Linked DNA regions of Homo sapiens: regions 1 and 3 are each linked to region 2. Evidence: fine-mapped expression QTL. A gene starts in region 2. Each other region holds a variant in brackets. All regions are shown on one strand. Distances are from middle to middle.

Evidence for each region.
Region 1: its variant is fine-mapped to the expression of ANXA2R-OT1 in thyroid (GTEx, PIP 0.92).
Region 3: its variant is fine-mapped to the expression of ANXA2R-OT1 in whole blood (INTERVAL, PIP above 0.99).

What each region holds. Positions count from the first base shown.
Region 1 is chr5:43,024,962-43,027,721 of GRCh38, reverse strand. All of the region lies in intron 2 of ANXA2R-OT1 (ANXA2R overlapping transcript 1), which reads left to right. LOC105374748 (a long non-coding RNA gene) reads right to left here. Exons shown (of 3, transcript NR_188279.1): 3 at 26-2,760. Among named protein-coding and RNA genes, the nearest start is that of ANXA2R, 14 kb to the left of the region's middle. The variant CAAA/A (reference allele first, on the strand shown) is at 1,376.
Region 2 is chr5:43,066,180-43,068,939 of GRCh38, reverse strand. It overlaps ANXA2R-OT1 (ANXA2R overlapping transcript 1), which reads left to right and starts at 1,501. Exons shown (of 3, transcript NR_104651.1): 1 at 1,501-1,642; 2 at 1,783-1,853. It overlaps LOC100132356 (a long non-coding RNA gene), which reads left to right and starts at 1,969. Exons shown (of 1, transcript NR_034127.1): 1 at 1,969-2,760. LOC100506639 (a long non-coding RNA gene) reads right to left here and starts at 1,917. Exons shown (of 3, transcript NR_102752.1): 1 at 1,154-1,917; 2 at 723-970. RefSeq lists an enhancer at 1,890-2,289.
Region 3 is chr5:43,017,654-43,020,406 of GRCh38, reverse strand. All of the region lies in intron 2 of ANXA2R-OT1 (ANXA2R overlapping transcript 1), which reads left to right. LOC105374748 (a long non-coding RNA gene) reads right to left here and starts at 2,262. Exons shown (of 3, transcript NR_188279.1): 1 at 1,735-2,262; 2 at 1,091-1,171. RefSeq lists enhancers at 1-26, 2,094-2,233, 1,773-2,295, 2,694-2,753. The variant TTTTTTG/G (reference allele first, on the strand shown) is at 1,546.

The DNA of each region.
Region 1 (2,760 bases), 41 kb after region 2:
AAAGCCATTAATTGCTTTCTCTTTGTCCATGGCTGTAACAAACGTTTATTTTTATTTTGGAGGCAAGGTTTCACTCTGTAGCTCAGGCTAGAATGCAGTGGTATCATCACAGCTCACTTCAGCCTTGAACTCCTGGGCTCAAACAATTATGTTGCCTCAGCCTCCTGTGTGGCTGGGACTACAAGCAGACACCAACACATCCAGCTAATTTTTTTTTTTTTTTTTTTTTTACTAGAGATGGTATTTTACTATGTTGCCTGGGCTAGTTTTGAGTTTTTGGCCTCAAGTGATCCTCCTGCCTCAGCCTCCCATAGTGCTGGGATTACAGGCATGAGCCACTATGCCCGGCCCATAATAAAGTTTTCTAGTCTTAGAATCTTTGTACTTTATATTCTCTCATGATGGTAACTCCACCTTTTTTTTTTTTTTTTTGAGACAGGGTCTTGCTCTGTTGCCCAGGCTGGAGTACAGTGGTGTGTTCTCAGCTCACTGCAAGCTCTGCCTCCCGGGTTCAAATGATTCTCTCGCCTCAGCCTACTGAGTAACTTGAGATTACAGGTGTGGGCCACCACGCCCAGCAAATTTTCTTATATTTTTAGTAGAGATGGCATTTCACCATGTTCGCCAGGATGGTCTTGAACTCCTTGCCTCAAGTGATCCGCCTGCCTTGGCCTCCCAAAGTGCTAGGAGTACAAGTGCGAGCCACTGCACCCAGCCTAGGTTGGTTTGTTTGTTTTTTGGTGTTGTTCATTGCATTACTCATATCGAAGTGGAAGTATCTGTGACAATTCTATCCTTACTATAGTAGCTAATATAATATCCTCCTAGTTACCTTTTCAACTAAGTTGCGTTAAGTTTCTTGATAACATTTATCATATAAACACGGTTTTATTTATTTATTTGTTGTCATGCTTTTTTTTTTTTTTTACAATCCATGAAGGTGTCAAACACTTTATGGCCAAGTCCATGTCTGCTTGTTGATTACTTATCTCTGGGACCTTGTTCACTATGTAGTACAATATAGACACTTGGTATTTGTTAATGAAGACATGATAAATGTATTAAAATCTTGGGTGTGGTGGCTTATGCCTGTAATCCCAGCACTTTGGGAGGCTGAGGTGGGAGGATTGCTTGAGCCCAAGAGTTTGAGATCAGCCTGGGCAGCAGAGGGAGACTCTATCTCTACAAAATTTTTAAAATTCTCTGAGTGTATGGTGCGTGCCTGTAGCCTCAGCTACTTGGTAGGCTTAGGTGGGAGGATTGCTTGAGTCTAGGAGATTAAGGCTGAAGTGAGCAGTGATTATGCCACCACACTGCAGTATAGGTGACAGATTGAGACCCTGTCTCAAAAAGCAAACATCAACAACAACAACAA[CAAA/A]AAGGGTAGTCTCAGAGCTCTATAACTGATTATAAACCACTCTACGAAAGGATCTAAGTAAAACAATAATTGTAGATGACAAAAGTCTTACAATAGCCATGGTTTAAGACACAACTGACAAAGAAATGTGGTTATATCTATGATATATAACATTTGAATATAATAATCATAATTAGTTCTGAAAACATATACTAAGACATATCACAATCAGAAGAATCTCATACAATTTTAAAACACTAATAACACATTTACATAAATACAATGCAAAGATGGTTACATATCATTTTATATTTGATAATACTTCTTGTGTGATTATACCAACTAAGCCAAATATGTCTCTTTGGATTTCAGGGGACTCAATGTCAAAAAAACTAATGAGATGAAAATGACTGAATTTAGAATTGGATTTTGGAAAGTTTGTCAAACATCAAAGACTTAAAACACTTGATATCACAAAACAGGATCACAGGTTATCGGGGGACCTGCGCCGATAATCACGTAGGTTCTTTTCTATTTTCCTAAGCGTCGACTGGCTTGAGAAATAAAAGAACAGAGTACAAAAGAGAGAAATTTTAAAGCTGGGCGTCCGGGGGAGACATCACACATTGGTAGGATCTGTGATGCCCCACAAGCCACCGAAACCAGCAGGTTTTTTTAGGGATTTTCAAAAGGGGAGGGAGTGTGCGAATAGGTGTGGGTGACAGACATCAAGTACTTAACAGGGTAATAGAATATCACAAGGCAAGTGGAGGCAGGGCGAGATCACAGGACCACAGGACCGAAACGAAATTAAAATTGCTAATGAAGTTTTGGCACCATTGTCACTGATATTATCTTATCAGGAGACAGGGTTTTGAGATCAACTGGTCTGACCAAAGTTTATTAGGCGGGAATTTCCTCTTCCTAATAAGCCTGGGAGCGCTATGGGAAACTGGAGTTTATTTCACCTCTGCAATCTCGACCATAAGAGACAGGTACGCCCCGGGGCGGCCAGTTCAGAGACCTACCCCTAGGTGCGCATTCTCTTTCTCAGGGACGGAATTCAGCGATATTTCTCCCATTTGCTTTTGAAAGAAGAGAAATATGGCTCTGTTCTGCCCGGCTCACCGGCGGTCAGAGTTTAAGGTTATCTCTCTTATTCCCTGAACAATTGCTGTTACCCTGTTCTTTTTTCAGGGTGCCCACATTTCATATTGCTCAAACACACATGCTGTACAATTTGTGTACTTAACGCAATTATTACAGGGTCCTGAGATGATATACATCCTCCTCAACTGACAAGATTAAGAGATTAAAGTAAAGACAGGCATAGGAAATCACAAGGGTATTGATTGGGGAAGTGATAAGTGTCCATGAAATCTTTACAATTTATGTTTAGAGAT
Region 2 (2,760 bases):
AGCAGGGGAAAATGCCAGGCAATTATAAAACTATCAGATCTCGTGAGACCCACTCACTAACACGAGAACAGCATGGGGAAAACCAACCCCATGATTCAATTATCTCCACCTGGTCTCACCCTTGACACATGGGGATTATTACAATTCAAGGTGAGATTTGGGTGGGGACACGGAGCCAAACCATATCAGCATCTCTCCTGATTTTCCAAATGCAAATGTCTTATAGTCTCTTGCTGAGGAATATACAGTTGCCGACTTGCCCTTTCTCTGACCACCCCACACAAACACCATATTGGAATCAGACAGAATCTGAATGCCGGAACTAGAATGCCTCCTCCTTTAGGGAAGTAAGCTCCATAACTCCTGTCCACATTCCTAACCTGGAAGAGTGACCCCTTCCCTCCAGAGGTGCTGATCCCACCATTTTTGCTAAAATAGGAAGCTAGGGTGGAAACGGAGAGAGGAATGGTGGGTGAGATATTTTGTTTTTTCAAAGGCTCTGCACAGTATCTTCAATTAGATAAAGTGGCTGTAACTTTTCTTCTATTGACACTGCCCTCTTTCCTTTATTCTACTGCCTGCAAAAGAAGGCAACTGAAGAAGCCTCAAGTACCAGGGCAGGTTTTGGCTAGCTGAAGAAAGGGTAAGGTATAGGGGGGAAGACTGGAGGTGACCATCTTGGGAGTGGGTGAGAAGTGAGAGCCCAAAATGGGTCTTCTTACCTCTCTGGTACATTCTGTGCTCTTCTCTGGTCTGACATCCGCCCAGGTTCATCCAGAAAAAGATGGAAATGATTTGAACAGGATAAGCTAGGGTGAGGATTAGACACGATGAGTTCAGCTGGAGACACTCATGGTAGAGTCTGGAGGTCTCTTTGGGGGATCACTTCCAAAAGTGCAGATTTTTAGAAAAACGAGAAAGGTTCTGGAAAGGGATGTTTTCCTTCTGCTCAATGGCAGTTTCAGGTTTCCTGTAAGAAAGGAGTTTGTAGCGTCAGTATATTTGACAAATGTGGGAGAGGGAAGATTCAAGAGCTTGAAATTGCATTGCACTTCCCAAAGATGGAGAAGACATCAGGGATGAATTTCAAAGGTGATAGAAATCGGGAACTGCCCTTTGAGGATTTCAAGGGGAGAGGGAGCAAAGGCCTCACCATCAATCCACACGTCCTGTGCTAGAGTCTTGCGATTCTTATTTCCCCTACCCTCCTGCAACGATTATTCCCATATATCAAGGCCATCTGACAGAGTTAACCATCAGAATTAAATAGCAGTTCCCACAGAGTTCCATCCCCTGGAGAGGTACCTAGCTGCCGGGGCAGGCCTGAAGCCTCGGTCAGGAGGCATTGAGTCTTTCACTCTCCACGGAGGTCTTGGACTGAGAACTTCAAGTTCCAAAGGGATGAGGTGTCGGCTTCGCCCTTAGGAGCCTGGAGGGCTCTGACCAAGGAGAAGGGCGGAGCCCAGCCACTGGAAGGTTTGTTTCTTGCAGTGGAAGACGGTTGGCGACCCGGATGGCTTTTGTTACCAGGGCCAGCCCAATCCGCCCGATTCTCGGTCCCTATACTGCCTCCTTTTCCCATGCGCATCGCAAGGGATCGGTTGATGGGGCCCTCAGTATGACTTCGCTAGGAAAAATAAAGGTCTTCTTAGGCGGGAGGGGACTGATTTGAGGACGGAGGGTGGGAGTAGTGCCAGCAGCACTTTGTCGTAGTGGCACTGGGTGGGCAGTTATCAGTTGCAGTCCGCTCGTTTCTCAGTGCCCACGGTTTCTCACTGACAGTGCAGCTCGTTTCTCAGAGCCGGCGGATGTTCATGGGCAGCACCATCGAGCCAGAAGCAGTATTTGTCCTGGTAAGTCATTTCTCAACTGCCGAAGTGTACTAGGTTCCAGTCCCGCTGGTTTCTCGAATCTGCTAGTCCCACACGAGCACCAATAGGTAAACCCAGCCGGCAGTTTCCGGCTAGCACTTTCGCTATTTGAAGACATTAGGAAGTTATGTGGTGGCTCCGTACCCTCCTTTCTCCATCCGAGGCCGGGGTCCTAAAGTCGGTGTCACGGTGGCAGCACCCAGCGTTTTGTTGGCTCTTTCGCCAGCAGCGCCGAGCGGGGGGTTTTCTGTCACAGCACTTGTTGCACCGAATTTCTCGGTCGCAGAACCTCTCTTTTCCGAGGGTCGACATTTTCTGCGTGACAACACCGTTGGTTCCGCCAAAATGGATGTTGTCCTTGGGAACTCCTCCGGCTGGCGTCACTCTTAGGGTCCCAGCACCGCCATTTCGCCAAGCCGAGTTCTCTTGGTCGCGGCACATCTTGTTCCTCGGTGCCTCCATTTTCTCGGTGGCGGCAGCGCTCTGGTAGCCGATCTGAGGGATTTGGAATCGCAGCCAGTTGCGCAGAGTCTGGGGTTCCCGGGCGACGCCGGCGCTGGGCGGGGGAGCCCGCCGCTCCTCCGAGCCAGAGGCAGAGGAGCTGCGCGGACGCCGTCTCTTCACAGCGCCGCGAGCGCCGACGCACGGGTTCCTGCTCGGCCTCCTGAACCCAGTCCCCCGGCGGCGCCGCTGGCGTCTCTATCGCAGGCCCCTGCGGTTTCGCCCGTCGTTGGCTTCTTGGTCCTAGCAAGTTTCGATTTCGCGGTGCCCGCTATTTCTACCTCTTGTCCAAATAACTAGCCAAAATGTGATTTCTCAGCCTAAGCAAGTCCCGATTTAGGGCATCGGTCTAGCCCTGGCTGCGATTTCTTGGTCCTAGGAAGTCACT
Region 3 (2,753 bases), 49 kb after region 2:
AAAAGAAAAACGATAACATTTTAGAGATTACATAGAACCAAAACAAACTGTAATTCCGACAGATAAACATAGCAAGAAAAGAAACCGAAATAAAACAGACACTAAGCAAACCTTGCAGAGAACTAGCTTTACAGATCGCAGCGCTTCAAGGGCCACGAACCATCTGTTCCAGGAAATGAGCATTACTGCCACCTGAAAACTGTCCGCTAGGGCTCTGAGCTACTTAACGACCGAAAGAGAAACTGGCGGCGCTGGGACTCAGCAAGCGCCGGCACCTAGCGAATAGTGCTGGTGTTGCCAAAAAATACCTGTTTTGGTGCCATAAGTGGTGCTGCCAGAGAGAAACCGTGCTCTTGGGAAACAGCGGTGCTTCCACGCCTAAACATCCTCTTCGGAGGAATGAACCCACTCCGTTTAAATGTGTTGTGTCAGAAAAATGTGTTGAGACATTTTAATGTTTTAATCCTCTTAATGTGTTTAATCCGCTTGCAGTATTTTAACCCGTTTTAATGTGTTGTGACAGAAAAAGCGCCAGCTAACGGTGCTATGAAATTACTAGTGCGTACAGCGGCTCCGTGCAATCACCGTTCTGCACAGTAAAACATGGTTTAGGAAGTTCTTTAGCAGATACTAGCGGTGCGAGAACCAAGAAAGTGACAGCACAGAGAACATAAGGACCTGGCGAATGGGAAACGTCACACTGGGCGCTAAGAACGGTGCCGTAACTGAGAAAACGCTAGTCGGCTCTACTGGCAAAAGCGCTGATGCAAAACCATCAGCTCCGCATACGAAGGAGAGCCACCAGACACAACCTGGCACCTGACAGCAGGGAGACTGAGACCGAGCTCGGCTCCCCGGATCCTGAGAGAATGTAAGTAAAGAAGCAGGAAGCTGAGACGCTCAAAATTAGTAGAAAAAAAATACATAACATTTAAATAAAATCAAAATTAAAAAAATAAAGGCTAAAATGCAAGTAAACATGGAAAGCAAACACATCGGTAACATCGTTCTCAGAGCAAAAGACAAAGAGAGAATTTAAAAATAAGCAAAAATTACAGAGAACCAATCCTAGAAAGAAGAAATTACAAACCTTGCTAAAAGATGCAATCCTACAATTGTGATATCTCTGTCAGATCTAAACCGGTACATGTTACACCTAAGTCTACATTTCCTACGAAAACAAAAACAAAAACAAACAACACCAACAAAAAAAAGCAGTCACGGTTAAACCTTTTTTACTACGACTTAAAAATCGCAGTAGCTGGTCTATTCAGACTTGGTCCACAAGAGGAAAAAGTCGCGTTCGGCAGGACTTGCTATTGCCAAACGGAGCTTGGTAACCAGAAATCGCGTTTGCGGACATTTCCTGACTTCCATGGGAGTTTAAAATACACACAAGCTTAGCTAAGGTGGGACTCAATATTGCGAAAACAAACTTGGTATAAGAGCTCCCAGGCACTGCTAAACTGATCATCGGTAAACCTAAAAAAAATCGCATTCGCGGGTACCCAGATTTCTTTTTCTTTTCTTTTTTTTTTTTTTTTT[TTTTTTG/G]AGTTGGAGTCTCGCTCTGTCGCCCAAGCTGGAGTGCAGTGGCGCGATCTCGGCTCACTGCAAGCTCCGCCTCCCGGATTCACGCCATTCTCCTGCCTCAGCCTCCCGAGGAGCTGGGACTACAGGGACCCGCCACCACGCCCGGCTAATTTTTTTGTATTTTTAGTAGAGACGGGGTTTCACCGTGTTAGCCAGGATGGTCTCGATCTCCTGACCTCCTGATCCGCCCGCCTCGGCCTCCCAAAGTGCTGGGATTACAGGCGTGAGCCACCGCGCCCGGCCGGTACTCCGAAGCCCTCAGATCGGCGACCTGGGCGCTGTAGGCACCGAGAAAATACAGGCACCGAGCCAGAAGCAGTGCCGCAACCAAGAGACCTCGGCTTGGCGAAATGGCGGCGTCTGGAGCCTGCGAGTGACGCCAGCTGGTGGGGCTGTCAAGGAGAACATTCGTTACGGCGCAACCAACGGTACTGTCACCAAGAAACCGTCGTCTCTGAGAAAAAAAGAGACGTTCGGCCGCCGAGAAACTCCGTACAAGTGCTGTGACAGAAAAACCGCCGGCTCCGCGCAGCGGCAAAAGAGCCAACGGGAACGCCGGGTGCTGCGACCATGACCCCGGCACTGGAGGACGTGGGATGGAGAATGGGACACACGGAGCGAGAAGGGAAACGTTTCGTGCAGACCAACTAGCGCCGCCGCCACCGGAAAACTGACTCGCCAGTGCTGCCAATGAAGTGCGTGTGAGAAACCGATGACTGGTGGGAGGAGCAGCGCTGGGCGCTGGACCCGCGAGTGTGAGAATCTGGCGGCGCTAGGACCCTTCAGGCGCGGGCACGAGGCGAAACCCAGCGCTGTTGCCAAAGACAAATGCGCGTTCTTTTGGGCGCCATCAGCGGTGCAGCCAGTGATCACTCCCAGGCTCTGAGAAACTAGAGATGTCAGCCACAAACCCTCCGTTCAGGGAAAGTTTGCGGCGCCGTGACGGATCGACTGGCACTGGGTGCAACATTGTCTTGTGGCCTAGAGACTAGAATATAAAAACAAAAACCAAATACAAAACTGCTGCTGGCATTACTCCTACTCTCCCCCCTCAAGTCAGTGGCTTCAGGCTTAAGAAAACCTGTATTTTTCTTGGCTGTGCCATAATCCGTAATTACCGAGGCCCCCAGCGACCCACCCAGTGTGATTCGCAGAGGGAAAGG